Linked DNA regions of Homo sapiens: regions 2 and 3 are each linked to region 1. Evidence: fine-mapped QTL for protein levels in blood plasma. A gene starts in region 1. Each other region holds a variant in brackets. All regions are shown on one strand. Distances are between the middles of the regions.

Region 1 (9,381 bases):
AGGTCCCTGTTATTCTCTGGACCCCGACACTGTACTCTTCTCTTTCTTTCTTTTTTTTTTTGTTTGAGACGGAGTCTCACTCTGTCGCCCAGGCTGGAGTGCAGTGGCACGATCTCAGCTCACCGCAAGCTCCACCTCCCGGATTCACACCATTCTCCTGCCTCAGCCTCCCGAGTAGCTGGAACTACAGGTGCCCGCCACCACGCCCGGCTAATTTTTTTGTATTTTTAGTAGAGACGGGGTTTCACCATGTTAGCCAGGATGGTACTCTTCTCTTTCTATTTTGTTTTCTTCTTCTTTTTTCTCCTTGTTCTTCTCTTCCTCCTCCTCTTCCAATTCTTCTTAGATTTGTCCAGTTTAAATTCAGGCTTTCAGCTGGCCTGAATTTATGACCCTGCACTGTACTAAGCTGCATCTTTCCTTTGCTCCGAGTCTCCAGAGTTTACCCCCGGAGTTCTTGGCTATTGTGCTGTAGGCCCCTTTGAAGCCTATGGCTCAGAATAATGACTTCAAATGTATAAAATACAATATGTAAGATTATAAAAAATATCAAGTTTATTAAAATAAAGTTATCAAGATATTTATTAAAAACAAATTTGTGACATGGTAATACATGCACTTCTTTATTAATGGATCAAGTAACAATCTAGCAAGGAGCCTAGTAACTACAGTGATTTCAAGGTAGTGATGAGCAGGAATGATATTTGGAGCTATTTGAAGCAATAGTAATATGACATAAAAACATCTGTAATTTCTCCTGGCAACAAAATCACGGTACTGTTAAAACTTTTGTAGTTTGTGGCCTATGGTTCAAAGAAAATGTTAAAAATTCAGTTAGAAGTTAGTGAACATTAAGATGCAATTTTTCTCTCTACCAAGTTTATGGATTCTCTGAATTCTGCTCATGAGCTCCTCAGGGCTGTGACTCCAAGTTAACAACCCCCAGCCTGGATGCTTGGGTTTCCTTTATTCTATTATTCCTTTCTTCATCTCTTTTTGAAACGGATCAGAGTTAATTCTTGTTTAATCATTAGCAACAAACCAGTAATAAAGGGAGCATTTTTTTTTTCTTTGAGACAGAGTCTCACTCTGTCACCCAGGTAGAGATGTGATCTGGGCTCACTGCAACCTCCGCCTTCCAGGTTCAAGTGATTCTCCTGCCTCAGCCTCCCGAGTAGCTGGGATTACAGGCACATGCTATCAGGCCTGGCTAATTTTTGTATTCTTAGTACAGATAGGGTTTCACCATGTTGGCCAGGCTGGTCTCGAACTCCTGACCTCAGGTGATCCACTTGCCTCTGCCTCCCAAAGTGCTGAGATTACAGGCGTGAGCCACTGCACCCAGCCAAAGGGAGCATATTTGAACACATGTGCTCAAACATTAACACAAGATCCGCCCACTCAGGCAGGAGCAAGGAGACCCCTGGACATGGGCTCCCTTTCTAGCTTGCAGAACAATAACCATGATCTTAAGGTAGAGTGGAAAGGGGCTTCTCAACCTCTCCCCCATGCTTAGGTGAGACTTACTCCATGCCTGAAGGTAAACAGTCTCAGAGGACTATGCCAGGTCAGGGAATATTCCACTCCATAGTCTCACTCCATGAGAAGGTCGCCCTACATCTTGAGGGGCCCCTCAAGGTAGGCCTTGAGATTGGCTGTTGCTACACGCGCACACACACACATCTGTATAAATGGTCCATGGTGACACTGACATCAGCTAAAGCAGAGAAATAAGGGCCAGGCTGACGTTATGAGATGTGAACTGCACGTAGCCCTTCTACACAGACACTCAATGGCATGCTGCCCACCTGCCCTCATTCTCTCCGCAGGTGTGTAGGATTCTGGGAAAGGCTTGCCCGGCACATCTTCTCCACTAGCTCTCTCCTCCCTCAGCGGAACCAAGTCCACTTTTAGCACTTTCACCGTTTCCCCTCCATTTTTTACCACTTGCTTCTTGTCTCACCTCCCCTCCGGCTTCCCTCCTTTGTCTCCTCCAGTTCATGCTTGCTTAGTTCAGGGTTTTCCTCTCCTTTCCACTGTCCTTTTCCACACTGCACCTGGCAGCCAAAAAGTAACCCTAACCATGGCAAAAAAGAATCAAGTACTGTTGAAATCCACCTAGACAAGGGAACAGGAGAGCTCTAAGGTCTAGAGGGAAATTAGACCCTAGAAGTGCGAGTTCCTGGTCCTGACACATGGAAGGAACTGAATGAATGTGTAATTGAGTTATTGAATAAAGAATCAGTACTGCTTATCCCCGGAGCTCCTCAGAGTCTCTTCTGGGATTTCCACCAAGTTGCCCTCTGTCCCTTGTCCTCCTCTAATTAAAATGGCTTTTCCTCAAGCACTAGCATTCAAGAGAAATAAAATGCTTTTAATCAATGCTATTGGTTTTGTTTTGCAACAGCATTTCTTGCTACCATTCTTCACTGCAATTGTGAGATGATTAGTTTTGTGTGTTTGTGGCAGTGGGGAGGGAGGGAGTGAGAATAGGGGAGCGAATGGGACGGGTGTTAGCCTGAGAATCACCTGATCTGACATTGTCTCTTGGAAGGCAAACTTGTGAGGTGGGGTAGTGTGTGCAGGGCAAGCAGAGCCCACAGGACCACTTCTGTAAGGTGTTCCAAGCCCCCAGCAAAGTGCTGCCTCCTCCCTAGGTAGCTTTTCTCCCAGAGCAGAAGGTCCTCCAAGGCTCGGATGGTCTCTTGATTCTTCTGTCACCAGCCCGGCCCAGTGTCACAGTGTACAGGTGGGCCTTACAGACTCATTATTTTGATTCTCACCTCCCAGGAGAATTTTATATTAAGGCATACAAGTTCATATGTTTATAGAAAAAACTGGCCATTGGTAGCAAATGCTGCTGTGTGCCAGGCATTGTGGTAAGCACTTCATATGCATCACCTCACTTAACTCTCCATCTGCAGTCAGAGGGATCCTTTCAAGGTGTGAATCAGGCCAGGTGCGGTGGTGTGTGTCTACAGTCCTAGCTACTCTGGAGGCTGAGGCAGGAGCATCGCTTGAGCCCAGGAGTTCCAGGCTGCAGTGAGCTATAATCACACTTCAACCTGGCTAACAGAGCAAGACCTTGTCTCTAAAAAAAATCCAAGTGTATACCAGATCCTGCCTCTCCCCTGCTCCAAACTCTCCAAGGGTTCCCATCACACTTGGAGTCAGGTTCCTGCCATGTCCCACAAGGCAGGCTGGATTTGGTCTTTGGCTCCTGCTCCAACTGCATCCCCTCCCATCCCGTCCCCTGGCTCACCTCACTCTTTGCTTCTCCTGGAACTGGCCAAAAAGCCCTGCCACAGGGTTGTTGCACTGACTTTTCATCCAGGCTCTGTCCAGCTCACTCCTTCACTTTATCAGTCATCTGCACAAGTGCCTTCTCAGACAGACCCTTACCACATCTAAAATATCACCACTTGTCAAGGTCTGTTGCTTTCCCTGCCTTTCTCCCCACCACCTTTTTTTTATTTTTTGAGATGGAGTCTCGTTTTGTTGCCCAGGCTGGAGTGCAGTGGCGCGATCTCGGCTCACTGCAACCTCTGCCTCCCAGGTTCAAGTGATTCTCTTGCCTCAGCCTCCCGAGTAGCTGGGATTACAGGCGTGAGCCACCACAGCTGGCTAATTTTTATATTTTTACTAGAGATGGGGTTTCACCATGTTGACCAGGCTGGTCTCGAACTCCTGACCTCAAGTGATCCGCCTGCCTCTACCTTCTAAGTGCTGGGATTACAAGCATGAGCCACTGCGCCTGGCCTTCCTTTTTAACAGTGCTCAACACAACTGGCCATTTTATTACAAATCTGTTTATTTGTCTATTACCCGTCTCCTTGACTATAGTCAAAATTACATGAGGACAGGGTTTTGTTTTGTTCACTGCTATATTCCCAGTGCCAAGAACAGTGTCTTCTATACAGTAGGCTCTCAATAAATATAGTCAATGAATAAATAAATAGATGAATACTCGCAAAATCGTATGATGTAAATGCTATTCTTATCCCATGTTATAGATAGGAAAACTGAGGCTTGGAGAGATTAGCAATATTTTCAAGGTCATGAAGCCATCGATCTGAATCAAAGCATCTGCCTCTGGGGGCTTAGCTCCCAGCTCCCGTGCTAGTTAACCTTCCTCTCTGCACTCATAAATGCCTATCAGCGTTTCAATGTGGAAACCCTAGACCCCTGTGACATTTGATAAGAAAGGTTTTGTGGATGAATCTGCTTGTGAAATACTACAAACTGCATTTCCCACTTGGTGTTTCAAACACTTATTAGCATATGAAAGGCCCTGAAAAGTTCTGCAAAAAACAAGCCGGTTTGTGTTTCCCAAATTTTTGACTGTAGAAGTCTTTTATTTGTTTATTTGTGTATTAACATATTGCAACACATACCTTGGGAAATGTTGGCTTTTATTACTGTGGAGAGAAGGCAGATCATCTGACAAAGCACTGGGAGCTCTCTCTGGGTCGTATGACACAGAGAGGGCTGGGGTCAGGGGCTTCCCTCACAGGCGGAGGGGCCATCCCGAAAGTCAACTTCCCACCAGACTGGCATCTGAGACCACCGTGTTTATACACTCACGGATAAGGCCACTCTCATGCTCACCCCTAAAACTGGAAGGCCAGTGGTGTGGCTCTGGTACCTTTCAGCCACAGCCCATACCAGCTCGGCTCTGCAGGGTACTGAGAGAGTGTGTGCCCTGTATGTTTGCTGGCTTTCTGCCCTTGGGTCATTGTACCAAGGGACACTTGCTGGTGTTCATCCTGAGCCCATGAGAGAGCAAATCCTTATGTGTGTGTCACTTAGGAACATCAGCCCCACAAGTCTGGTCTTTTTTTCCTCACTGTCTTATGGCTCCTCACTATAATTTTAACCTTTTAGAGAAATAAGGATACCACCTCACCCTCTTCTGTCTTCTCAGCTACCTCTGTGTTGAGCCCATGGTAAATGCCTAGATAAGTCTTGGTGTGAGTGAGAGGGAACCAATAATCTTGTATGTTGCATAGTTTGGTGCAGGGAAGCATAAATGGTGATGTTGCAAATCCCTTAATTCATTACCAGAGGCTTTCCTCTGCCCCAAGTAGGATAGAAGGATACCCAGAGGCAGAAAAGAACATTGAGTGAAATATACATAACTGTCTGAATCACTGCGTTCTTGGGAGAGTTAGAGCAACCGTCAAAGCCCCCCAAGTATCCATTTTTATTGGTTTTGATGTTGATTTGATGTTGTTAGAGATTCAGGTCTCATCTTCGCTTCTGAGATCATCTGAGTAACATCGGTGTTGGAGAAGGGAAGAGCAGAGATGAGGCATCCACAGGCAGCCCTGGATCCTGAGTGTAAACATCTGGGAGGAGGCGGGGGATGCAGGAGAGCCTGGCCTCCCCAGCTTGCCAGGCACAAGGCTGAGCGGGAGGAAGCGAGAGGCATCTAAGCAGGCAGTGTTTTGCCTTCACCCCAAGTGACCATGAGAGGTGCCACGCGAGTCTCAATCATGCTCCTCCTAGTAACTGTGTCTGACTGTGCTGTGATCACAGGGGTAAGTCGCCTAACATTCTCTGTGCCTTGGGTTTTGGGAAGATGTCAGGGTCTGCACGGGTTGTGAGCCCAGGAACCATGCAGGAGGCTCTGTTGGCTCAACACAGTGTGAACCAAAGGGAATGGGGAATTATGCATTAAAGGGATTGCATGCGATTTTCAGACTAGTTAGACCTCACTCTACTAAATGGGATCTGCTTTTGAGAAGCTGTGTATGAATCAAATCCTGTTTTCAATGTGTTAGCAGAGCATTGAACATTTTGAAGTTCAGTCCTTTGGTAAAGTGAAGATTCCTATTAAGTAATAAGGAATTCCTTTATAAAGTGGATTGGCAAACCTTAACTTATCTTTTGTGTGAATTTTAATTTTTATTTATGGTCTGATTCACATATTAATATTAATATTAATTTACATAGCATGTTGACTTAATTAAAGGCAGTAAGCTTAATTAAAGGTGGTAAGCTTATAAACTTCTATTGTATAAACTTAACCTCCGCTTAGAAAGGATATCTTTGAAACTCTTTCACTCTGTGCCTGCCTAGTTAGTTCTGAGAGGAATATGGGTGCCACTAACATTCAGCTGAGTGTACCCCAAAGCAAGCATCCAGATAACAAGTAGATATCCAGTCTCGAAGCAGAGAAGCAAAGGTTCAGCATATGGGCACTGTACAATTGGTTCAAAATATTCAGATCATGGTTTTCTCTCGGAAGTTTGCTTTTACCTCAAACCACCTTCAAATAGGGGCACATGATGTGTTATGGTAGCAGGACCATTCTTACTGAAGCAGAAAGCAATGCTGTACCTGAGAGCTTTCCATATAAAATCCACTGGAAGAAAAAGGTCGGGGAAGCAGGGAAACTAACTTTTAGTTCAGCCTCCACCAGCTTTTTACATGGATAGTGGAAATGTAGAGAAATGCCAAACAATTCCTGGAATTGGGTTAATTTTACCATTCACAGAAAGGACAAATTCTTTCTTTTCTCTTTTAAAGGAAAAACACTGAGTTCAAAAGAACAAATATTAAAGGCGAGTCAAATGCTTTTGAGATCCAAAGCAAAAATAAAAATAATTGTGAAGGCAGAATTATACCTAATGAAGTGTTTACACTGTAGGCTGCCCTTCTATGGGGTAGCTTGAAAATCTGGGAGGGCAAGAACAATGGAGAGAAGCCCCGGCTGCTGCGCGGTGAGGGCAGGAGCAGCGTGGTTGGCCTGGATGCCAGGCTTGCCTCACCACCCGTGCCAGCTCCAGCACTGGCCCAGAGTGACAGCAGGGCAGGCAGATCTGAGAGCGGCAGGCAAACATTTTCACGGTGAAAAGCACAATAGAGAGCACTTTTCCCTAGGTGAGGGAAACCCAGGAAAGACAGGTGAGTGGTGAGAACAGGGCAGTAAGGGGAAGTCAGGAACCCCCAGGCTCCCCACATCCTCCATGTCCTGCTGGTGTCCCACTTCTGATTTTCAGCAGGAGCCCAGGCTCCACCACCTCTACACTCCCCTGCTCCCTGGACTGTAACTGTCCCCACATCCAAGGCTTTATGATCCTTCTTCCAAGAGTGGGACAGTGATGCCCCACCTCTATGGGAGAAGAAGAGTCGACTGGGGTTTCCTTTACCCCAACCCCAAGCTTTTGTGGCCTGGCTGGGTGTGAGACGTGCCCTTGCTGGGCTGGAGACAGGCACAGCTGGGTGCCCACCACCCGTAACTCCTCTGCATGATCTGTGGAGCTGACATCCACTCTTTCCCTCTTGGGTCTGAGCAAGTAGGAGGCTTCCAGGTCCTGCCACGTCCCACACAGCAGCCTGAAGGTGCCCATAGGCTTTTATTGGAGAAGAGTGATCCAAAACCCAGCTTTGCATTTCAGCTCAGAAAAGCCACATAGCATCTCTGAGAATGGCAAGTGTGGATGCTTCTTCAGCAGGTCCCCACCTGAGTCTGGAGCAGTTAAGAGTTCTGTCTTCCCCGGCTCTGGCTTTTATTTAACGTGGGCTCATGTTAAATGTGAGCTTATTTAATGTGGCCTTCTTTACAAATGGTACCTTCCCCAAACCAGGCAGGGCCGCTCAGCTCCTGTTCTGCGATCCTCTCTGGGAATCATGGAAGTCAGTAGAGAAACCCTGGGAGAGGCACCTGTTCACTGGGGTGCTGGCCCCTCTGCTGAGGCTGGGCCACTTGAGGGCCAGGATGGGGGTGCCTCCATGCAGAGGGGAGGGACTGACCACAGTGCAGAGTCAGGGCTGGAGACTCCTGGTCCAAGGCAGCTCAGTACTGACCACCAAGGAATTTGGGCCATCAGGGTCCCTCCCACCTCTGAGAATTCTAATTAATTCAATTCCACCAGCATCCACTGAGCATCTACTTAGCCCTAGAAAAGCTATGCCTTCTAACCTCCAGCCTTGTCAGAAAAGGAGGACTGTCTTCCTTCTGAGTGGCCTCCAGGAGCTTGGAAGTTTCCTCAGATCCAGATCCAATGCCCCCCTGAGCCCTGAGCCTCCCCACGAGGGGAGCAAGGCAATAAAGTGTGGCCCAGGGTGTTCTGTTAGGCTAAGGCCGGGGGTGATACTCTCAGCCTCTTCTTGCTCCATCCTGATAAGGGCTTTTTGGATCTACCCTTCCCTTCTGCTTTCTCTTGGGTGCACTAATGAACTGTTCCCTTCTCTCTCCCTCCTACAGGCCTGTGAGCGGGATGTCCAGTGTGGGGCAGGCACCTGCTGTGCCATCAGCCTGTGGCTTCGAGGGCTGCGGATGTGCACCCCGCTGGGGCGGGAAGGCGAGGAGTGCCACCCCGGCAGCCACAAGGTACTCTGCAGACACTGCATAGGTGCACATATGTGGGTGGGCCATGCGGGGAGCAGAGGGTGATGTCCTGGGGCCTTGCTCTAGCTAGGAAGGCTAGAGAGGCTGGCTCCAGAGAGGCAGTCTAGGGAGGCTGTGGCTCCAGAGGACTTCACCCTCCTCTGATAGCTGATCCAGCCCTGATCCAGCCCCTGAATGTCCAAGGGGAAGCAGAAGGCTATGGGGTTGCTGTGCCCCTGCCATCAACAGGCATCCACCTTACTTAGTGCCCTGCAGATGACACATTTGTACATTTATTTGTACAGGGCCTGACATAATTCATCTACAAACTTCTAGCACAGGTTGGAGAACCACTGATCTTTATTTGATCCTCACTGCAACCCTGGGCAATGCTGAGGAAACTGACATACAGCAAAGTCATGTGACTTGCTCAAGGCACACAACCAATGAGACAGAGCTGGGACTGGAACTGCAGTTTTCCGATGCCACCTCTAGTCATACCTCACTGATGTTGGGCACTGCCTCCTTGTTTTTGGGGGGCAGCCTCAGGTGGAGGGGTGCCACTGATCTTATAGGCTGTTAAACAAGCTGGGCATTCCCAGCCCCTAATTTGCTGTGTGGACTTGGGCAAACTACCTCACCTGCTCTCAGGCCACACTTATATGATGAGTGGAGCAAACTCACTACCTCTAATGTCCCTTATGGATCTGATGAATTCAGATTTGGGAAGGATCTCACATGCCCTTTGCTCTGTAAGAACTTCCCTTCAGGGACACAAAAGTAGACCCACAAAATCGCCTTCCACACCTGGTCAGGCCTACAGTGAGGCAAGTGAGGTGCCCACTTTAAGAAGTCACTCTCTCTTGTGGCCTAAGTACATAGCTCCTGCCTTGCTCCCACTCCTTGACCTCCAGCTCCCAGTCCAGAGTCCTCTGGAGCCACAGCATCCCTGCTGCTCTCCCTCTCTGGAGCCACTTTACCACACTTTACCAGTTAACCAGTGAAGCTCCCAATTCCCACAGCTTTTTCATTAAAATGCAAATGGT
Region 2 (10,843 bases), 16 kb after region 1:
CAAGGAGGAGCAGGAAGCCTCCCAAAGCCAAAGGGAAAGGTCAGCTCAGCAGAGGCTCCGAGGTTGGGGACCTGCTTCAGAGTTGAATTTGCAGGACGAATGACAGCTGGATTTTACTTAGAGTGTGTGTTTTGTCTAGGGTGGCTGTGCTTGGGCAGGGGCTGAGGTGGGGCCAAGACCCTCGAGCTATGGAGGGCAACACTTGATGTTTGTCTTACTCCGTTTCTGCTGCTATAACAAAATACCTGTGACCGAGTAATTTATGAAGAACAGAAATGTATTTCTCATAATTCTGGAGGCTGAGAAGTCCAAGATCAAGGCACCAGCAGATTCAGTGTCTGCTCAAGGCTTTCTTTTTATCCTCATATGGCAGAAGGTAGAAGGGCAAAAGGGGCTGGCTAGTTCCCTGGAGCCCTTTTATTAGGGCACTAATCCCATTCACAAGGGCAGATCCTATTCTGACCTAATCACCCGCAAGGCTCCACCTCTTAATATTATTGCATGGGTGGTTAAATTTCAACACATAAATTCAGGGGGACATTCAGACCACAGCAGCATTCCTACTTCTTCATACCCTTGACAGTGACAATCACTGAGTTCCAGAAATTGCTACTTGAAAATGTGACCCATATACTGCCCAGGCTGGTCTCAAACTCCAGGTCTCAAGCATTCCTCCTGCCTTGGCCTCCCAAAGCACTGGGATTACAGGTGTGAGCCACTGCGCCTGGCCCAGTAGTCGGCCTTGACCTGTGAGTCTAGCCCAAGAGTCAACCTTGAGGATTCGCCTGGGTTGTCAAAAAATCAGATTCTACCAGTGGGGGAAGGAAGCACAAGGTGGCCTGGGGGCACATTCTCTGTCTGGGTATCTTTGGGGACACCTGTTCTGATTGGGAGCTGGAAAGGAAAACAATAAGAGCCATTGTTAAACAAACAGGTTTTCTCCATCGAATGACAAGTGAATGAATAAAACACACTATATCCACACAATGGAGTATTATGCAGCCATGAAAAAGAATGAAGTATTGATATACACCATAACATGGAGGAACCTTGAAAACATCATGCTGGGTGAAAGAGCCAGTCACAGAAGGCCACATCTTGTATAATTCTATTTATGGGAAATGTCCTGAATAGGTAACTCTGTAGAGACAGAAAGTAGATTAGCTGTTGCCCAGGGCTGGGGTGGGCTGCAGGTAGGAAAATAGGCGGTGACTGTTAATGTTCTTTTTGGAGCCATAAGAATGTTCAAAATTAGTTAGTAGGCATGGTGGCACAACTCTGTGAGTATCCTAAAAATTATTTGAAATGTATATTTTAAATGGGTGAATGGTCTGGTATGTAAATTATATCACCATAAAGCTGTTTTAAAAATACTAAAATCCAAAAAGTAAAAAAGAAAAAAAAATAGCTCTACAACTTCGGTTTGTAGAATCGAAAAGATGAGGTCAGGAAGGGGCCGGGGCTCACAGTTTCTGAGTTTTGGTGCTTCCAGGGACCCAGGAGATCCTCAAGCCCTGGGGCACATCAGGAGTGAGGAGGGTGGGTGTTCTGGGCTGGACTGTGACTTGATATTCCTTCAAATGGATATTTTAAAAAATGTTCATTTAATATTTGTTTTGTAGGCTGAAGAGAACGATTTGACATTAACCCAAACTGTGTATTTCTTTGCTAATGTACCAAATAAGGCATTTGTTATATGTGGTTTTCTACCCCAAACATCTTTTACACCAATGGCATACTAAACTGTTTTCAATTTAGATGATTAAAGAAACTGCCTATGAGCAGAACAAAAGCACTATACTGTGCACTCTGCAGTCTGGGGTTTCAGTTTCCTGGGACTGCATCTTAAGATGAGTGCAAGGAATTTTTGTTTTCCACTGGAGGGCACTGCCCACCCTGGTGGGAACAGAGAGATCCCTATGTAGTGGCTGAGTTATCTGGCACAGGCCTTAACTGGCTCTGAGTCTTCTATTGACTGCAGGGATGTTTTGTGCCCCCTTTAGAACTACACCCTGGACAGCTGACCCTGACAAGGAATAAGGTTGAAAGATGGGTTGCCACCTCTTGCTCCAACCCTGGTTGGGGCCATGGCTAGACTCAGAAGCCCAAAGCCACAGAATCACTGAGGTGAACAACTTTAGGTGAACGAAAGAGTCAGCTTCCCTGCTGAGGTTTTCCATCCCATATTTATGACAAAGGGCTCTGCTGGGGCCTGCACACAGCCATGGTCTGCAGCCACACCCTAGGTCCCTGCCACTCTGCTGTGTCCTGTCCCAGTTCTCTGCTCACCTGAGGGGCAGTGCTTGGGTCTTGGGAAGACCACTTGGTCCAGGTCACAGGAAGGATATGATTTATGGTCCTTTTGTCCAAAAGATCCTTTCCTGTCTCAGCCCCCTGCCTACTCGATAGACTCTGCTGCGCGTCAGTCACAGACATATTTGTTTCTGTGTACCTTGGGAGAAAAACACGAGTGTGGTTCTCAAAAGGATTCGGAGCTCCTGCGGGGGCTGGCCTGGTACAGGGCAGGAAAATATTCTGGGTCTAGTGAGGACAGAGGGGCCTTTATTTGGGAGCTGAAGATTAATGAGGAGGATTAACTGGATCTAAACAGAGAGAAACACTGGTGTGAGTAAGAAGACGTGGGCACATTTCTGACGGAGACGAGTCATGGAGGAGCCTGTGAAATTCTGTCTCAAAGCTAAACCCCAAAGATTAAGTAAACAAATATGTCAAATGGCAGCTTGACATGTTCTTGTTATTTTACATTTTGCTCGATTGGCATTTCTCATCAAATTAGCGGCAAAGCTCCCTTATGTTTCCTGACGGGGGGTTAGCACAGTGGTTCACTGCACAGACTGCCTGAGTTCGAACCCTAGTTTGGATGCTTACTAGAGACTTTGGACCCAAAGTTACTAAACCTCTCAGTACCTCAGTTTCCCCATCTGTACAATGGCAATAATAAAAATAGCACCTACGTGTTGTAACCAGCACACCACACTAGCATTACCTGGAGGGATCTCTTCAGTGAGGTAAACCAATAAGATGTCCAGGAAGGAACGAACAATCTTTTCTCGGATGTGCTTCAATTCCCCAGAAGCTGAACATGGTAGGAAGAAATCAGTTTGTTCAGATCATGTTCTGTTATTATCTTGAAGTTTAGAAGCACAGGTTTATGTAGGCAGAGCTCAATAACAGCTCCATTTGGGAACACAGATACACAAATCTTATCTAAGTACTTCTTAATACCTTGCTTAAACATATGAGTCACTGTTTCACAGTAAAATGGAATGTTTGCTCAATATGGGCTATGATCTTAATACTGTGCTATTCTTTTTTTTTTTTTGGTAGAAAAAGCATAAGGAGAGTGGGCTTTGAAGTCTGTCCTGGCTCCTCTCAGATTGTGTCCAAATCAAACCTCCCAAACCATGTGTGTTCCCTGAGACAGGCCTCACTGTTGCTGCGACTCCCTTCTAGAAGGAGGCAGTGCTAGGGAATGTTGCTCACCCCCTAGACCACCAGTTCCCAAGCACCAAAGGAAGACGTTACTGCCAAGCACCAAAGGAAGACTCTGCTTCTGTGGGGCCTTCAACAAGCCCCTCTACAGCTTGGACTCTGATGCAGGTGCTCCTTGTACCTCCCACTCCCAGAGAAACACTACCCTAACCCATCACCCCAACCTTTGAAGGAAATCAGTTAAACAAATAATGAAAATTCTACTTTTCTTTCCAAGTGGCAGAGAGGCTAGTTTCCATTAGGAGAAGTTCCAGCTAAGATAGAGGGTAGTCTTCATGCTAAAGCAAGGACTAGCAAGCCCGGGAGAGGGAGGAAGAAGGGTGTGTGTGCGCACCTGGGTCTGTGCCCATCCAGAATTAGGTTTCAAAGGGGGAACTATTGTGCCTGTGAAAACCTGAGTCATCAAAGTGCAAAGGGGGAAAAAGAATACAGAGAGGAGCAGTTGCGCAGGAGAGAGAGGAGGTCCCTTGAAAGGCAGTCATTTCCGTGCACTTTAAGGCAAACAGCTGGGCCCCCACCTGGACTCTGGAAAGCCTTGCAGGTGAGGAGGCTGAGCTGGCTGCTCTGAGGCCCAGACCAGGAGGCAACATGTGTTCTACATACACACTCCCTGGACCCATCTGGGGCTCAGCTGGGAAGGGATGAGACAAGGACCTGGGCTGCCAGATGCAATGCTCAGGGTCTCCAGGGGGTGTCAGAGAGTCAGGGCAACAGAAGGCGGGGCCCAGGACCCTCTCCTGGGAGCTGCCCCACTGCAGGAGCTGCTGGGGGTGGTATCTTAGTAGCAGTAGCCCCATGGGCAGAGGCAGCCTGCAGCTTACTGTCAGCGTGAGGGGAGGACAATGAGACATTTGAGAGCCTGCAGTGTCAGGCTGGCCATGCCTGGTCTCATTAGCCTTCAAGAAGGGGCCTGAGAAGAGGCTCTGGTGCAGGCCCAGGGAGGTAGGGTCAGAGGAAAGAGCCTGTGAGGGGTCTCAGGGGAGCTAAGCACCCACGGGAATTTGGCCCCAGCCAGGGAAAGATGAGAGAGAGGGTTCTTGCCTTATCTCCCTGTTGCAGTCTTAGTTGGACAAGTTGGGGCCCCAGTGTCCCCTGGAGGTGGCCTAACTGCAAAGCATGTAGGCCACAAGGGGCTTTTCTGGGTTGCCCCAGAGGTCCCCTGAGCCCTTGAGGAGCTGGATGCAATCAGAAGTGGGACCATATACTGCCCCCAACGTCTCCCACCCTATTTCTCAGACTCTGTCCCCACTATTTCCCACTCTACAAGGCGCCCTGTCTTCCTGCTCTGTCCTCTCTCTGACCTTCAGGCTGGTGGTCAGAGGTCCTCTTGGCGGTCCTGGGACCAAAAGTCTCATCTCAGCACCCTGAGGAGTCAGGGTCTGTTTCCACGTCTGGTAAACAGGAACAGTAACCCCTGGCTGCCCACAGGCTGTCACGAGGGCACCCTCGGCAGTGCTCCCCCAAACTCCCCTAGGGTTAAACTCACCTGGGGTGCTTGTGAAGTACCCAGGGTCCTGTGCCGCATCCCAGAGCCACTGGATCTGGATTTCTGGAGAGGAAGTCTGGCAAGCTAGAGTTTTAGCAGCTTGAGAAATGTTGGAAAGGAGTGAAGCAAAAAGGCCCC[A/G]TTCACTCACTCTTCTTGGTTTGAATCCTGCTCCACCCGCCAACTGCCTAGCTACAGGACCTGGGGGAATTTGCTCCTCTAACTCAATTTCCTCATTGGTAAAATAGGTTCCCATTAGAGCTTATCTTGTGATGTTGTTGTGAGGACTAAATACGAGGAGCAAGCCCCAGGCTGGCACAGAGAGGAGCCACAGTAACTGTGAATATCACTACTAGATAGGCTTATGGAGTGAACGTGCTTTGTAGGCTGATAGATGAATTTTTTCTTCTCTTTATATAAAGTGGGCTCTGCCCTCTCTTCAATAAAAGACAGTGTCTGCACCAACCAATCCTCAAAACTCAAGTATAGAAACTGGATTGTGCACTTAATCAGGGTGGAATAGAACAGCCTGTGCCCACCCCCTCCGCTGATGGCTCATGAAATGGGCCAAGTGGGAGTGAGGCTGGCCTCCTGCAGCCCTGCACCTGGGCACCCTGCCCCATGAGGAGGAAGCAGGGCAGGGCCCTCTGTGCTCATACCCCTCTCCCTGACCCTTCCCTGCTTCAGGATTGCTGCCTTAAAAAAATTCTTTGACTGTTACCCCAAGTAGACCCACCCCGGATTTTACTGCATGCTGCAGCCCTCTTCATTCGTAAACCACCCCGTGGAGTCAGTCTGTTCAGTTCAAGGTGAAGATTTTAACTCAGGCTATTTATAATTCCTGCAATGGAGCGGGTGTTAGTTTCAAAGCAGTCATGCCAGATGTCAACTTAGAAGCTGAGAGGGAGACAAGCGTTATTATAAATTAATGTTGCCAGTGATTAATATTTGATATTTTTAACACACGTTCGTCTCAGAGGAAAAAAATCCTCTTTAATTAATGTGGCTAGATGTTGTGCAGTCCTTCCACTGACGTGGGATTACTGAAAATCTTTGGGTATAGCTTTGGGCAAAAATCTGACAGAAGAAAATAATTGAACCCTGAAGTCAGAGTCAGAGTTTGATGCCCCAGTGTCTGTACACCTGTCTCCTTCAGCTGGGACTGTCGGGGTTGGGCATCCGCCAGTCTCCTTCCCCCTTCCATCCTTTCCCCTCGGGACCTCCTGCTCCCATTCTGGACTGGTCCAGGCTGGAGAAGACACTGGTTGGTTCCATCACGGCCTGGGAGTCTGGAGATTTTTCTTTAGTCTGGGCTTTGCCAATATGTGAAGTGGCTCATCCTGTAGACTGTCACTGGGTGGGAGGAGAGGCTTGCCCTATAGACCTCTGCTATTTTGTCTGCACAGTGCAAAAACAAATGGTTGCTCTTATTTCAAAGCTGGTATATTTCTCCCCACATCCACATTTCCTGTATCTCTTGGAAAATGGCAAATCCTGGCATCCCTAGTGTGGGTTCCCACAGTGGCACTAACTTGTGATATTATCTTTCTTTTCAAATGTTCCTGAACCCGCCATTGATCTTGGCCTCCACTATACCTTCCTCAGGGTGGCCATCTGGTGGCTGGGGTTAGCATCTGACCTGCAGACAATTTGGTCTGCAGGTGTTGGCCTGCATTATGCTTAAAAAATAAATTGGGGCCAGGTGCGTTGGCTCGCACCTGCAATCCCAGCAGTTTGGGAGGCCGAGGCAGGCGGATCACGAGGTCAGGAGATCGAGACCATCCTGGCCAACATGGTGAAACCCCGTCTCTATTAAAAATACAAAAATTAGCCAGGCCTGATGGTGTGCGCCGTAATCCCAGCTACTCAGGAGGCTGAGGCAGGAGAATCGCTTGAACCTGGCAGGCCGAGGTTGCAGTGAGCCGAGATTGCGCCGCTGCACTCCAGCCTGGTGACAGAGTGAGACTCTGTCTCAAAAAAAAAAAAAAAAAAAAAATTGGAAGGACACTGGGCCTGGTGGCTCATGCTTGTTATCCCAGAACTTTGGGAGGCTGAGGTGGGAGGATTGCTTGAGGCCAGGAGTTCGAGACCAGCCTGGGCAACATAGTGAGACATCTGAAATGAAGCAATTTGGAAGATAATTAAATTAATTGCATTTTTTTCTTTTTTGATCTGGTTTCTCCTAAAATTATTTTTCAACATTTATTTTTAAATTTAGAATTTGAAGCACAATCTCTAGTATTTTGTAGGCCCATAAAATGTTACATGCCTACTCCTTAGTTTAGTAAAAATAGATATAATTTGGTAGAATCTCTGGTAGGCGATTTTTTTTTTTTTTTTACATCAGCTAACATATTCTTCTCCATTACCTGCCTGGCCCCTGTGGTCATCTGGGCTTTCACCCTTGCCAATGTCACTGAGCCTCATGTTTCTTATCTGTTAAATGAGGCCTGAGAGGCTGGGGTAGAAAGATCATGGATTCTGGAGTTGAACTGGTCCTGGATTGAAATCCTGGCAACACTGTCTTCTCATCTTGGAGCTGAGTAACGACTTAAGTTCTTTAAGCTTCATTTTTCTCATTTGTAAAATATAGATAATAGCAACCACCCTGCATGCTCTTGGTGATGACTAGATGAGAGGAGAATAATAAGAGCTTGCATTCATCGAGTGCCTGCTGTTGCCAGGCACCTTGCATGGCCTCACTGATCATCACAAAAAACCTACAAGGTAGAAGATGTTTCCAGATGAGGACGCCGAGGCTGGGAGGGATGACTGTCACAAGGGCAGAGCAGGGGCGCTGAGCACACAGTGGGCACTCAGGGACCCAGGGCTGTGTAAGAGACATTGCCAAGGTCGCCTCTACTCCTGAAAACCCCATGATTGAGACCCTGTCCCTCTACTTTTCACAGTGACCAGGCCAGGGAGGAGTGAGTTTTGCAGATGTTCAAAGACAGAACATAAAACCTGAAGGTGTCCCTCTTTATATTCTGAGTTTTCAAAAGGTGCATATTCCATTCATTAGATTATAGTTTATGATATTTGGTTCATAAGAGTATACTGATTTTTATTTACAAGTAAACCTATTTTTTTACTGTGTTGTATATGTGACATAGAAGTTACCATTTTAATCATTTTTAAGGGTATGGTTCAGCAGCATTGAGTAAATTCATGTTCTTGGGCAAACATCACCACCATCCATTTCCAGAAATTTTTCATCTTCCCAAACTGAAACTCTGTACCCATTAAACAATAAATCCCCATTCTCTCCCTGGTCCCAGCTCCTGGAAACCACCATTCTACTTTCTGTCTCTGAATTTGACTCCTCTGTGTGCTTCACATAAGCGGAATCATACAGTATTTGTCTTTTTGTGACTGGCTTATCTCACTTAACATAGCATCTTCAAGATTCATCAATTTTGTAGCACGTGTTAGAATGTCCTTTCTTTTTAAGACTGAATAATATTCATATATATATATACACACACACACACACACACACACACAGACATACACACATATGCCACATTTTGTTTATCCATTCCTCTGTGGATGGACACTTGATCCTACCTTTTGGCTATTGTGCATAATGCTGCTACAAACATGGGTATACAAATATCTTTTTGGAACCCAGCTTTCAATTCATCTGAGTGAACTGAAGAATCCCACAAGTGGAATTATTGAATCATACAGTGTTCTACTTTTAATTTTTTGAGGAATTGCCATACTGTTTTCCATAGTGGCTGCACGATTTCACATGCATACCAGCAATATACAAGGTTTCCAGCTTCTCTAAGTATTTGCTAACACTCGTTTTCTCTCCCTTCCTTCCTTCCCTTCTTCCTTCCCTCCCTCCTTTTCCTTCCTTCCCTCCTCCCTTCCCTTCCTTCTTCCCCTATTCCCTTCTTTTGATAGCAGCCATCCTAATGTGTGTGATGTGATATCTCATTGTAGTCTTGATTTGTATTTCCCTAATAATTAGTGATGTTGAGCATATTTTAATACGTTTCTTGGCCATTTGTATCTCTTCTTTGAAGAAATCACTTCTATTCAAGTCATTGGCCCATTTAAAAATCAAGTTATGGCTGGGCGTGGTGGCTCATGCCTGTAATCCCAGCACTTTGGGAGGCCGAGGTGGGTGGATCATGAGGTCATGAGTTCAAGACCAGCCTGGCCAAGATGGTGAAACCCCGTCTACTAAAAATACAAAAATGAGCCGAGTGTGGTGGCGGGTGCCTGTAATCCCAGCTACTCGGGAAGCTGAGGCAGGAGAATCACTTGAACCTGGGAGGTGGAGGTTGCAGTGAGTTGAGATCACGTCATTGCACTCCAGCCTGGGCGATAGAGCAAGACTCTGTCTCAAAAAAAAAAAAAAAAAAAGGGAAAAAGAATAAATCAAGTTATTTGTTTTTTGTAGAAGTTCTTTACATATTCTGGATATTAGCCCCTATCAGATATATGATTTGCAAACATTTTCCCCCATTCCATGGGTTGCCTTTTCACTTCGTTGATGTGTGTCATTTCATGCACAAAGGTTTTAAGTTTTGATGTAGTCCCATTTATCTATTTTTCCCTTTGTTTCTTGTGCTTTTGGTGTCATATCAAGGAGACCTCACCAAATCTAATATTATGAAGATCTTAAACATTAAATTTTGAACCAGTTTTCCTTCCCAACTACTAAGCGATTCCTTACAACTTTCTTTCTTTCTTTCGAGACAGGGTCTTGCTCTGTTGCCCAGGCTGGAGCGCAGTGGTGCTATCTTGGCTCACTGCAGCCTCTACTTCCCTGGCTCAAGCAATCCTCCCTCAGCCTCAGCCTCCTGAGTAGCTGGGATTACAGGCATGCACCACCACCCCTGGCTAATTTTTGTATTTTTTTCTGGAGACAGGGTCTCACCATGTTGCCCAGGCTGGTCTTGAACTCCTGGGCTCAAGTGATCCACCTGCCTCTGCCTCTGGAAGTGGTAGGATTACAGGTATGAGCCACAGTGCCCAGCACAAACTGTATTTACAAAGCAAATCAATCACGATCTCAAGATGTGTGACCTGGTGCTAATGCCTCATTGTCCTGCAGAGGGCTCGTGTTCTGTATGTCCATCTTCGTCATCCCATTTTAGGACTGCCCTGTCCAGTCTTGGTGCCTAGGTATTGTGTGGTGGTGGGGACAGAGCTGGAAGGGACCTGTTTCCTACCAGAGAAACTTCTCACCCCATCCTCCTCTCTCCCACTCTGCTTTCCTCTTCTTTTTACCTCCCTACCTGAAAAATACTCTGAAATGGGATTTAGGACCTGTCTGCTAACCCCACTTCCCTGCAGCCCCCAGTGAATTTGGATCCATTTGCCTGTTTCCCGGGGCAGGGCCCTAGGCTGTGAGTAACCGGCTCTCTCCCTGTCTAGTTTCCACCTTCTTCCTCTGGACATGCGGGGTGGCATGTGTCAAATTTATAAATATGGTTTTGGAGAGGCCTTTGGATTATCTCAATCTTTAAAATCTTTTTATTTAGACATAATTTCAAACTTGCAGAAAGAGTTCTTACATACCTTAACCCAAATATCAGAAATGTTGACACCTCACCACATTTGCATTATTTTTCTGTCCGCTATTCCTCCCTCTCCCCTTCCCCTCTGCTTTTCTCTCTCTCACTCTCTCTAGGTATTAAAATATATATTATATTATATAATATGTAATATATTTATATATTTTATGTATAAAAATAAAACTTAAATATATATAAAATATATAATTATTGATATTTAATACATAAGTATAAAGAAAACACATAGCTATATAAATTATATAGAACATATATGTATGTTTTTCTTCCCCTGGATCTTTTAGGAAGCAAGTTG
Region 3 (10,843 bases), 18 kb before region 1:
ACTTAGAAAATATAAAAATGTATGAAGACAAAACAAAATAACCCCCAGTATTAGCAATGCCAACTTGCCAAGACAAAAATGTTAACATTTTTATTTCTTTTTCTTTTCAGTCTTTACTCTCTGTGTGCACACACACACACAGGCAAAGTGAAATCACATTGTATATTCTTTTTTGCTTCTAGCATTTTCCACTTAGCTATCTAATATTACTATTTCCTGATATCAATAAATGATCTTCAATCCCATGCTTAACTCTTCTGTCCAAGGCATGTTCTGCCCAATTTTGTTTTCTCCTGTGTCTGTTTGAATGCCTCCTTTCTGGCCTGCATCTTAGGGGGACACTGAAGTCTCCTTTCCAACAGAAGTTCTATTCAGGGGGAATCTGTTATCTTGTTTAAAGCCCATCCTGGGCTGGGGAGCAAGCAGGAGAGAGAGAGAGAGACACCACCCATACGTGACTAGAGTGCCATTTGTAGCAGGATGCCCCAGAGGCAGCGTGGCCCTTCACCACCACAGTTATCTGGAACGAGCAGGAACTGTGTAGAGGAAGAGGCACATCCCCTTTTGAATGGCTGTGCCCTTGCAGCCACCTCAGTCCCTGCTTCCTGAAGGGAATCAGTTACTGGGCTCTGGGAGACAATTTTCAAAGTGAACTTCCACGGATGTGAAGGGAACCATGACCTAGAAATCTGAAGGTGCTAGGTCTTATTTTGCTCAGAGCTGAAAAGAGCCACTTTAAGAGGGCAAACATTGAGGAAAAAATGAAGAATATTTCATTTTTTAGGGAAATCCTACGAGCCTATAGGAGTCATCTTAGCCCATGTGCATGGTCACATGGCCTCTGTCCAGGATGGCCAGGACGGGGTGACTTCCTTAGAAGGGACTGGCATCTTGGGAGGCAGGCCTTTTCAGGGCTCAGCCCCAGGACTCCTTATCAAAATGTTGAAAAAAAAAGTTTATTCCATGGACTTCTAGAAATGGGGAAAGCATTGATGGGTTATAACTCAATTCTCAACACCAACAATCCATAACTCTCAAAGAAGATCTATGACTCCAAAAGGGTGACCTGAATCAGGAGGCTTATAATTGCATTGCCAAAGTGCAATGTGATCAGAGGCAGAAACATAACTAGGACCTCCCACAAGGAGTTGAAACTCCCTTTATCCTGGGCCTGTGGTTATCTCATTGATATTTTCCACTGTAGGTGAATTATTTCATTGTAGAGTCCCCTATTTAGAAAATACATGGCATGTGTGCCAGCATTTTCCTATCCTGCACCCATGGCAGGCATCACCAATCAACATTGGCACCCTCCCCACTGAGCCTAGAAGCAGCTTCAGACTCAGTCTCAACATACTTCTCCAGGCAGCCATTACGAATCAGTCAGCACTGACCTGGAATGAAATCCTTTGACATTCCTGAATTAGTTTATAATCACAAGCAGGAATTGTATATCAAGTTCTTATTAGATAGAATACTTAGAAGGCCCTTAGGTTGGTTCATTTGCCTGTTTCCTCATAAGAATGAGGGCAGAGCTGGGCATGGTGGCTCATGCCTATAATCCCAGCACTTTGGGAGGCTGAGATGGGAGGATTGCTTGAGGCCAGGAGTTTGAGACCAGCCTGGGCAACATGGCAAGATCCCATCTCTACAAAATATATATTAAAAAAATAAAATGAAGAATGAGGGCAGGAGGTGGCGGGAGAAGTGGAAGCAGATGGAGGAAGTTAGGTTGAAGAGAGCCAAGGATTCTTATTCTGATCCTATGATTTTCTTTCTTTCTTCACTCTGTCACCCAGGCTGGAGTGCAGTGACACTATCCCAGCTCACTGCAATCTCTGCCTCCCGGGCTCAAGTGATTCTCGTGCCTCAGCCTCCCACGTAGCTGGGATTACAGGTGTGTGCCACCATGCCTGCTAAATTTTGTATTTTTAGTAGAGAAAGAGTTGCGCCATGTTAGCCAGGCTGGTTTCAAACTCCTGGCCTCAAGCATTCCATCCACCTTAGCCTCCCAAAGTGCTGGGTTTACAGGCATGAGCTACCATATCCAGCCCCATTTTCTTATTTAAGACTGAATATGTTTCTCCTGACATTGCCACAGGTAGCCTCCTTTCCTGCCTGTTCCTAGTCCAGCCCTGGGACTCTTCTCACCTCTTGTCAGGGTCCCTTGAAGCAGGGGCTGGGTTGCCCTTCTCCCTGAGGCAGGCAAGAGGCAGAGCCGGGTTCAAGCAATTCTAGTGCCTCAGCCTCCCAAGTAGCTGAGATTACAGGCATGTGCCACCATGCCCGGCTAAGTTTTGTATTTTTAGTAGAGGTGGGGTTTCACCATGTTGTCCAGGCTGGTCTCAAACTCCTTACTTCAGGTGAGCCACCCACCTTGGCCTCCCAAAGTGCTGGGATTACAGGAATGAGCCACTGCATCTGGCCTATTCTTTAATGAGAAGAATAGAGCAATGAAGTCCCTGAACTGGGCCGGGGTTCCCAGGGGCTTCCCAGAAGCATGTGGCTGACTTATTGTAGTGAAAAATTAGCCAGCACAGATTTATCACCCAATATTTAGCTTTGGCCATCAGTATTCTCATAGCAGCTTCTGCTGATTGCCTCATTCAATCAACACAGGGTGGAGGTAATATTCCATTCACGTTGCGAGATCCTGGCTTTGTGTCCTGATGGGCCATGTGGGCAGGCTGCTCTCTGCTCTAACACTCCCTCAACACTATGTTCACACCATCCTGATTTTTTCCCCCAAGTGTTTGCACGACTCAGCCTATGCAAGGGATTATGGAGCTCAGTGGCTCTGTGGCTTCAGGTTCTGGCAAATGACTATTTGCTTTTTCTTCTTCTTCTTTTTTTTTTTTCTTTTTTTTTTTTGAGATGAAGTTTTGCTCTTCTTGCCCAGGCTGGAGTGCAATGGTATGATCTCAGCTCACCGCAACCTCCGCCTCCTGGGTTCAAGTGATTCTTCTGCCTCAGCCTCCCAAGTAGCTGGGATTACAGGCATGTGCCACCATGCCCAGCTAATTTTGTATTTTTGGTAGAGACGGGGTTTTTGCATGTTGGTCAGGCTGGTCTCGAACTCCCGACCTCAGGTGATCCGCCCATCTTGGCCTCCCAAAGTGCTGGGATTACAGGTGTGAGCCACTGCGCCCAGCCGATTATTTGCTTCTTCATGGCAACTCACAGACCATGATCCCCACTCAATCTTGTGGGTTTGTAATAGCAGCACAGAAAAGCTGTGTTGAACCGTGGCACATCTGTTAGCTTTTCCAGGTGCTCAGGAGGAGAAGGTGAACTGGCTGTGTGTAGTATGGTAAATAAAGGGGCCGGGCTACCTTTCAGAGGTTTGGCACACTGAATGACTTATGCCCTGACCAGAGACCTGGGCTAGGAACTTAGCTCCATGGCCTGGATGCCTGGGACCTTGGTCCGATTTGCAAACACAACAGCTCCACAGGAAGAAGCTTTGTCACAATAGTTATTATTATAGCAACCATCCAGAGGATGCTGCATCCTAAATATCCCTCAGCAGTAGTCCAGGTAAGAAGCACACCTGACTATGTATGCTCTTCTCTGCTTCAGAACCCTTCAGGGAGCTCCACTGCCTATAAGGAAAAGTCCACATCTGGGCACTTGGGTCTCCATGAGCTTCTGCCTGCTTATGGCTCCAGTCTTACCTCTCACTGCTTCCTGCATTAAACGTTTGCCCTAAACATTGAACTGGGTTCATTGTTGCATGTTCCCCTTCACCCCCAAATCAGACTTTGCTCATCCCCAGGATACCTTTCAACTTCCCCCACCTCCCCACCTGCCTAACACCACCACTCACTAACAAGGAGCTGTGCTCCGAAGCTTGTGGACAGCTGTGTCATGGAGGAGCTGCCGTGCTCTGTCCAGAGGGCTGTCTCTTGAGCACAGAGACTGAGCCTTCCCCACCTCTCTAGCCTCTAGTCCCAAGCACAGCCTGCCCCCTGGTAGCCCCTAGGAAATTTCCACCAAATGCATGCAAGGTCTTGCAGCTGCCCCACAGCTTGACATCCCACTTCCTCCTGAGCCTCCTCCTCCACTGTCTTCTATCCTCTGCTCAAAGCCCTTAACCGATGCCCCGGTTTTTCAAGGGCAGCTTCTTCAGTGTTGTTTGTTCATTCACTCAACTAACAAGGGCTGACCATGCATCGGCCTTGAGGGACTGAGGAACAAAGGTGCTCACACTCTGATGGGAGGCACACGGAAGCAGTGGCAATAAAATCTGTAAAGTCTTCTGTGAGAAGTTAAAGAGAAAATGCTAGAGGATCCCAGAGGAGGAAGCTACTGCTGACTGTGTGGTGGCTCCTCCCCAGCCTCGTACCCTGACTCTCACTCTTCAGCCTGCCCCAGTTCCCCTCTAAGCTACACCTTCTCCAGGAAATCGCAGCACACCCATGGCATCCACCTTTCCACTGAAGACTCCTGAGTATTCAGCCCCAACCTCTCTCTGAGGATTAGAGAAGTTAGGTAACCTGGCCAAGGCCACACAGCTAGGGGCAGCAGGGATGGCGCTCTCCTAGGACCATGCTGCACTCCTCCAAATCTGCTCCTTGCTCCCCTCCCATCCATCTCCACCTTCTTTGCCCTGCTGTGTGTCCTGGGAGGCTGATCTGTGAGGATGTCTTGGTGGCTGCCTTCGGTGGATTTGGCTAGTAACCCTCAGAGGAGTGGAGGAAAGGAGGAACATGAAACCGGGGAATTAACTCCTCTGTCATGCTCCCAGCAAGACCACCTAGGTTGGCTGTCCCTTGGCAGAAGGGGATCCTCTCAAGGGAGCTTCTCTACAAGACCCTCTCCTTCTGGTCCAGGTAGCTGTTCTCCTCCTGGTCTTCTGGCTGGGTGATGGGAGAAGCTCCTTCACTCCACTGCTACTGGCTCTAGGTTACTGCATTAGTCCTGCCTTTATCCGACACCACGCTCACACCTTTGTGAAAACACCCTCTGTGCATTATCCTAGTTTGAGTGGCTCCCTCTTTCCTGCGGGCCCGGGGCTGATGCATGCTCCTTCTGCATGTCCTGGATTGGCGAATAGCATCAATATCTGTACAGCTCTCCAGGCCCCAACCTTAACCGTCTCCTATTCTTCTTTCTCTCTCATCCTACTCTAGGACCTGAAAGCCTCTGAAGTTCACTCCTTCGGCCCCACTCCCTTCCTGCTGCCTTTGGGCTCTCCTCATGTGACTCTGCCTGTTGAAACTGTCTGCTAGCTGGCCCAGCATCTCCAGGCATGGCCTCACTCATCCACCTCTCCCTTGCTGAAGGTCTCCTCATGTAACACACGATTCCTTTAGATGGTCCTTCATCACCAGCAAGATGAAACCTAAATTCATTGGCATGGTAGACAAAACTCTAGCCTTGCCTCCCAGAGGCCAGTCTCTGTCTCCGCCACTCCCCAGGTGGACTGCATTGTGTTTCTGCTGCCATAAACATAATTTATTCTGACTGGAACATCTTCTGTGCATGTCTGCAGAGTGCACTTCACTCCCCCTGCAGTTCAAGCATCCTTCCTCCACAAAGCCTTTTCTTTTGATCACTGCAGGACCTGTAAAAGCTATCCTGGGATAGCCTGTATTTACTGGACTGAAATGATCTGTTTGCCTATCAATTTCCCCAAATGATATATGGCAAGGAGTAGTTGAATCTAAGAGCAGATCTCAAAGCCTATGTCCTTTCCATTGCCTTGTACCCTGCTCCCCTCAAGAATACCTATTTTTTGGGGTTGGTGGGAGGATCATGTGAGATAATGCATGGGCAGTGCCTGGCACACAGTAAGTGCTCAATAAATACTGTTATAAATGGGCGACCAGGCTGGGAGCTCCTCGCCTTATCTCTTTCCTGTGTATCTCTCAGTCCTTCGAATCTCCTGCCTCCTCTACCCAGAGTATGTTTCTGGGGGTTACAAATTTTTGAGGCTCCCGGTTAGAGATGAAGATCCCATTAGCGAAGATTGAATATCGGACTAGCTGTCAGGAAGCTCAGCTTGTTAGGTCAGGAAGGGAAGGGAAGGGAAGGGGAAAGGGAGAAAGAAAGAAAGAAAGAAAGAGAGAAAGAAAGAAAGAAAGAGAAAGAAGGGAAGGAAGGAAGGGGAAAGGAAGGAAGGAAATATATATATATATATATATATATATATATTTTTTTTTTTTTTCCCTGAGATAGAGTCTTGCTCTGTCACCCAGGCTGGAGTGCAGTGGCATGATCTCGGCTCACTGCAACCTCAGACTCCCGGGTTCAAGTGATTCTTGTGCCTCAGTCTCCCCCTGAGTAGCTGGGATTACAGGCGTGCACCAACACACCCGGCTAATTTTTATATTTTTAGTAGAGACAGGGTTTCATCATGTTGGTCAGGCTGGTCTCGAATTCCTAACCTCAAGTGATTCACCCGCTTCAGCCTCCCCAAGTGCTGGGATTACAGGCGTGAGCCACCGCGCCTGGCCCGGAGAGAAAAATGTTATAGGCAGGTGTGTGTGTGC[G/A]TGATTGTGTCCAAGTGCTAAGGACGTGCTATTCATGGGGTGCAGGAAGATGGATCTTGCTTCTCCAGTAGTCTTGTCTACCTGCAGGTCTCATCAGGCCATATCTCCAAACTTCTACTTGCTTTGGAAATCTCACATGGAACCTTCCCAGGATCAGGAAAAAAAAAAAATTAAGTAGAGTACCTTAATTCTATGACTCTACTTGACTAGCACTGAGAGATCTTGACCACTTAAAACATTCATTTATTTCCCACATACCTGGCAAAATTCTGTTTTGCCACAGGCCCTGCTGCCGTGCAAGGTTTTGTTACATGGCGGTGGAATTTCACTATTAGGGGAATCCCCTACAGTTCAACCTGTAGAAGCAGAAGGAAGGAGCAGATATCCAGTCATGTGGGGGTACATGGGATTATAGGGCTTCTCCTCCTAGCCTAGTGGGATAGAGTTGATAAAAAGGACAACTGTTATCTACCCCATCTCCTCCCTCTCCACCCTAATGGAGGAAGAAGCTTCCTGAGAGAAGCTACTTCCTGAGCTCAGCCTTGCTTCTCTCTTCTGGAGAGTCACCCCCTCAGAGGGCCATGTTGCCCTCTCTGAGCATTTGCCAGGCTGAGCTGGGCTGGGTGGAAGGAGTGGATATAATGCCTGCCTGCCTGCCTTCTTACTATCTGCACAAGCATTGGCCTCTGAGTGAAACCCAGAGTCTCTGCTTTGGATGCTGGGGACCTGGGCATCTTTGTCCCCTTGTGTCTCCTCCTGGCGCTGGCCAGGGGCCTACAAAGTGCACTTGGCACCAACTAGTCCAAGTCCTTGGTGAACTTGTCATTTTCCTTAGTTCTCTCCATCCTCCTGGCCCTTTTAGGGACCTGTCACAGTGCCTGCTGAGAGTGATTGCCCAACAGAAGCTCCTCCTGCACTCTCAGCCCACAGTGGGGGCAGGGGCAGGCCGAAAGGCTGGAGAGTGAGAGAAAGCCACCTGCTGGGAGGTTCTGGCTTTGTTGCTGCCACTGACTCAGCCCCAGGCCTTTCCCCGTGTGACCAGCCCATCAGACTCACACCCCTGAGCTAACCTGCACCCAGGCCTTCCTGGCAGTACAGACTCACGCTCAGGACAGTGTTTCATGCCTGTCTTTCTAAGGAGTTTCTGTAGGATTTCAACATGTGATCTCCCTGCCCTGCTGCCCTCAGAGCTACTCATGTGACTCTGTTTCCTTCTTTTCAGTCTTTTAAAATTGTGGTGAAATGCGAATAACTTAGAATTTACTATTTTAACCATTTTTGAGTGTACGATTCAGTGGCATTAAGTATTTTCCTTTCTTTTCGCTCCTGGCAGCCTTATCAATAAAGCGGTGGTCCTGTCTGTTTCCCCCCAGGCCACAGGGTGGGTGTCGGGGGTCAACTTGGATGCCCAATATCTCCCATTTGGATGAAAAGTTTCTATTCTGACAACCACCCATCTGAAAAATGTAAACTTCCATGGAATCTGCCTTCCTTCAGCAGGCAGCTAATGGGAGGCTTTTTAAATTAAGAAATTAGAGTGAGTTGGCTGGTCACAGTGGCTCACAATTGTAATTCCAGCACTTCGGGAGGTCGAGGCAGGCAGATCACTTGAGGTCAGGAGTTCGAGACGAGCCTGGCCAACGTGGTGAAAACCCGTCTTTCCTAAAAATACAAAAATTAGCTGGGTGTGGGGGCATGCACCTGTAATCCCAGCTACTCAGGAGGCTGAGGTTTGAGAATCGCTTGAACCCGAGAGGTGGAGGTGCCACTGCACTCCAGCCTGGGCAACAGAGCAAGACTCCATCTAAAAAAAAGAAAGAAAAAAAAATAGAGTGAGTTGGTCCTGATTTCACTTACTCCTACTTTTACCAGCCTATGTGAGGAAGGAAAGAGCACTGGATCCAGAGCTTAGAACACCTTAAAGGCTGCTGGCTTCTGTGGGGCTGGCACCACTGGGGAGAGGGACTCCAGTCAGCTGGTGAAGGGCTTGGGTCCCTGGCTGCTTGGAATGGGAACTTGTCTGATCTTTCCCCAGAAGCTTGCATTTGTTTGGGATAGAGCCAATGTGCTGTCTTCGGGCAGGAGCCTGCCTCTTGATGTACTGTGTTTGTATCAGAATGCTTCTGGGTACAAGAGATAGAGAGCCTGGCTTAAATTCAATTAACATGTGGTCAAATCAAGGATCCAGGTTCTTTCATCTTTCTGCTCTGTCATCCTCAGCATTGGCTTTTTTCCTAAGACTGGTTACTCTGATGGTCCCGACTCTCCAACTACCGATGGTGGAAGGAGAAGGGCTCCATGATTGCTTGATTCACCCAGCTGTAGAAAGAAAGAAACCACTCTCCCAAGCATAGACTTTATGGCCTTCCCTTCTGACTAATCAGGCCAGCGTAGTTCACCTGTACACCCCTGGATCATCCGCAGTTACAGGTGAACAATGTGGTGGGTTGACTGTTCAAGATGCAGTGCTAGTGCTGGGAATATGGTCAGCTTCCCCTGAAGCACAGCTTCTAAGTACCCTGGGGAATTGCATTACCTGTAGGAGAGGTACACACTGAGCAAAACTTGGTTTCTGTTAGAGGAAAAGACTTGGGGAGTGGTCCCCTACAGCAATGTTTTTCAAACTGTGGATTGAGATCCATTAGTGGGTCATGAAATCAGTTTAGATCACAGCTTATGGGGCAAATTCAGCCTTTATTTATTTGTATGAATAAAGTTTCATTGGAACACCGCTACCCCCACTCGTTTCCTATTGTCAATGGCAGCTTTCCCACTACAATGGCAGAGTTAATTTAATTACTTGGGACAGAGATCATATAGTCATCAAAGCCTAAAATATTTACTCTCAGGCCTTTTGCAGAAAATATTTGCTGATCCCTGGTTTAGCGAGTTGCAACCAGTACTAAAAGATGAAACAGATTAGACTAGAATAGAAAATATATCAGAGTGCATTGCCTGTGATAGGGATAAGTATTATTTCATAAACCCTTGATTTTAGTTTTATATAAACATAAATTCGTGCTTGTGGGTGCTGGGCTCTAGTTTATTTCTTATGGTGGGTCATAGTCAAATAGTTAGAAAAATTGCACTAGAGCACCACTCATTTTTTGCCGTGGAAATAGCTACTTAAGAAGGCCTATTTGTAATAGTGCTGCCCTTTGGGTTACATGTGATCTCTGTACCTAAAAGGTCAGGTGCTGGGGAAGATGCCTTGAATTAACAAAGGGCCATGAAACAATTTTGGGGGGTGACCTGGGAGCACTGAGTGAGCAACAGTATAGGATGAGCAGGGATCTGGCCAGGAGGAAGCTGGACCAGCCGCGCTCAGACTTGAAGAGACTGTGCTGGAAGATCTAAGCCTTTGTTGCTTCTAACATTCTGTGATTTTCAGAGGGGCGTTCACCCCATTCTGTGGGTGGAAAATCAAGGCCAGAGGAGACCACACACAGAAAACTCAGGGGCAGGACTAGTGGCTTTGGCCCTTTGGTGGCTTTCTGCCTGCCGTCCCCTGACTGAGTTTTCTTTGGCCCACGCTCCAACTATGCCTGGAGAGAAGCTAGACCAGATGGAGACTAGCTGGGAGCATTGACTCCTGGGTTCTCCTCTCCTGAGAACTCTGATCTTGCCAGCACAAAGGGGAAGACATCTTCTCTGACTCCTTCAGGGAAGGGAGTCCCGCCGACCACAGCTTTCCACGTTTCTGGGCCTCTGGCTTTTAGCAATTGCCCTCCTTTCCCGCCAACTCTGGCATCTTCCTGCCTGTGTGGGAGTCACTAGCGTGCAAGGAGGCTGAAGGGCCTTGATTGTCTGTGAGAGCCTCTGCCATTAGTAAGGCAGTCGTGGAATGTTTATGGCCTCTGCCACTTCAAAGACATTGCTGGGCTCCCATCTAGGGGATGGCTTTGACATTTATAGGAGGGTCAGCGAGCTAATAAACCAGAGAGGTTTCTAGTGCCTGAGGGATCCTCTTACAAGAAGAAATTTATTTCACATAGGAATGTCCAGAAATTTATTGGAAATATCCAGCCAAGTGCGCATACTAACTAACCCCATGCTTCATTTTGATGAGACCTTATGTCCTTGGACAGGAGGCCCTGTAAGGCAGCTTCAGACAACGGGCTCCACCTCAGCAGGAGCAGCTGGGAGCCTGGGCTCTTCTTTCTGAAACTGCCTTCAGAGTTGGATGGAAGAAGGGCAATTGCCAAAAACCTGGCTGAATCTGTGCTCAGGTGGAATTTTCTATCTCAGCTGCTGCTGAAATCAAAGATGAGCTCAGGCACTGGTCTTCCAAGATGTCAAAGCACAAGTCCTTTCAGAAAGTGAACTCACGTGGACCCCAACTATGTGAA

Which allele goes with the higher level. Positions count from the first base shown, and alleles are read on the strand shown. Strength reflects both the effect of a copy and how common the allele is.
As copies of A replace G in region 2, the plasma level of the protein whose gene starts at base 5,401 in region 1 goes down (moderate association).
With allele G in place of A in region 3, the plasma level of the protein whose gene starts at base 5,401 in region 1 is lower (weak association).

The links. PIP is the posterior inclusion probability: the model's chance that the variant is causal. Protein levels are from antibody-based Olink assays in UK Biobank. Linkage for the fine-mapping came from a reference panel and not from the study's own genotypes, which makes the PIPs less certain.
Region 2: its variant is fine-mapped to the plasma level of the PROK1 protein (UK Biobank, PIP above 0.99).
Region 3: its variant is fine-mapped to the plasma level of the PROK1 protein (UK Biobank, PIP above 0.99).

Annotation. Positions count from the first base shown.
Region 1 is chr1:110,445,749-110,455,129 of GRCh38, forward strand. PROK1 (prokineticin 1) reads left to right here and starts at 5,401. Exons shown (of 3, transcript NM_032414.3): 1 at 5,401-5,540; 2 at 8,213-8,338. The coding sequence starts at 5,469.
Region 2 is chr1:110,461,272-110,472,114 of GRCh38, forward strand. No RefSeq gene overlaps it. Among named protein-coding and RNA genes, the nearest start is that of PROK1, 16 kb to the left of the region's middle. The variant A/G (reference allele first, on the strand shown) is at 5,138.
Region 3 is chr1:110,426,530-110,437,372 of GRCh38, forward strand. No RefSeq gene overlaps it. Among named protein-coding and RNA genes, the nearest start is that of PROK1, 19 kb to the right of the region's middle. RefSeq lists a silencer at 7,375-7,564. The variant G/A (reference allele first, on the strand shown) is at 6,495.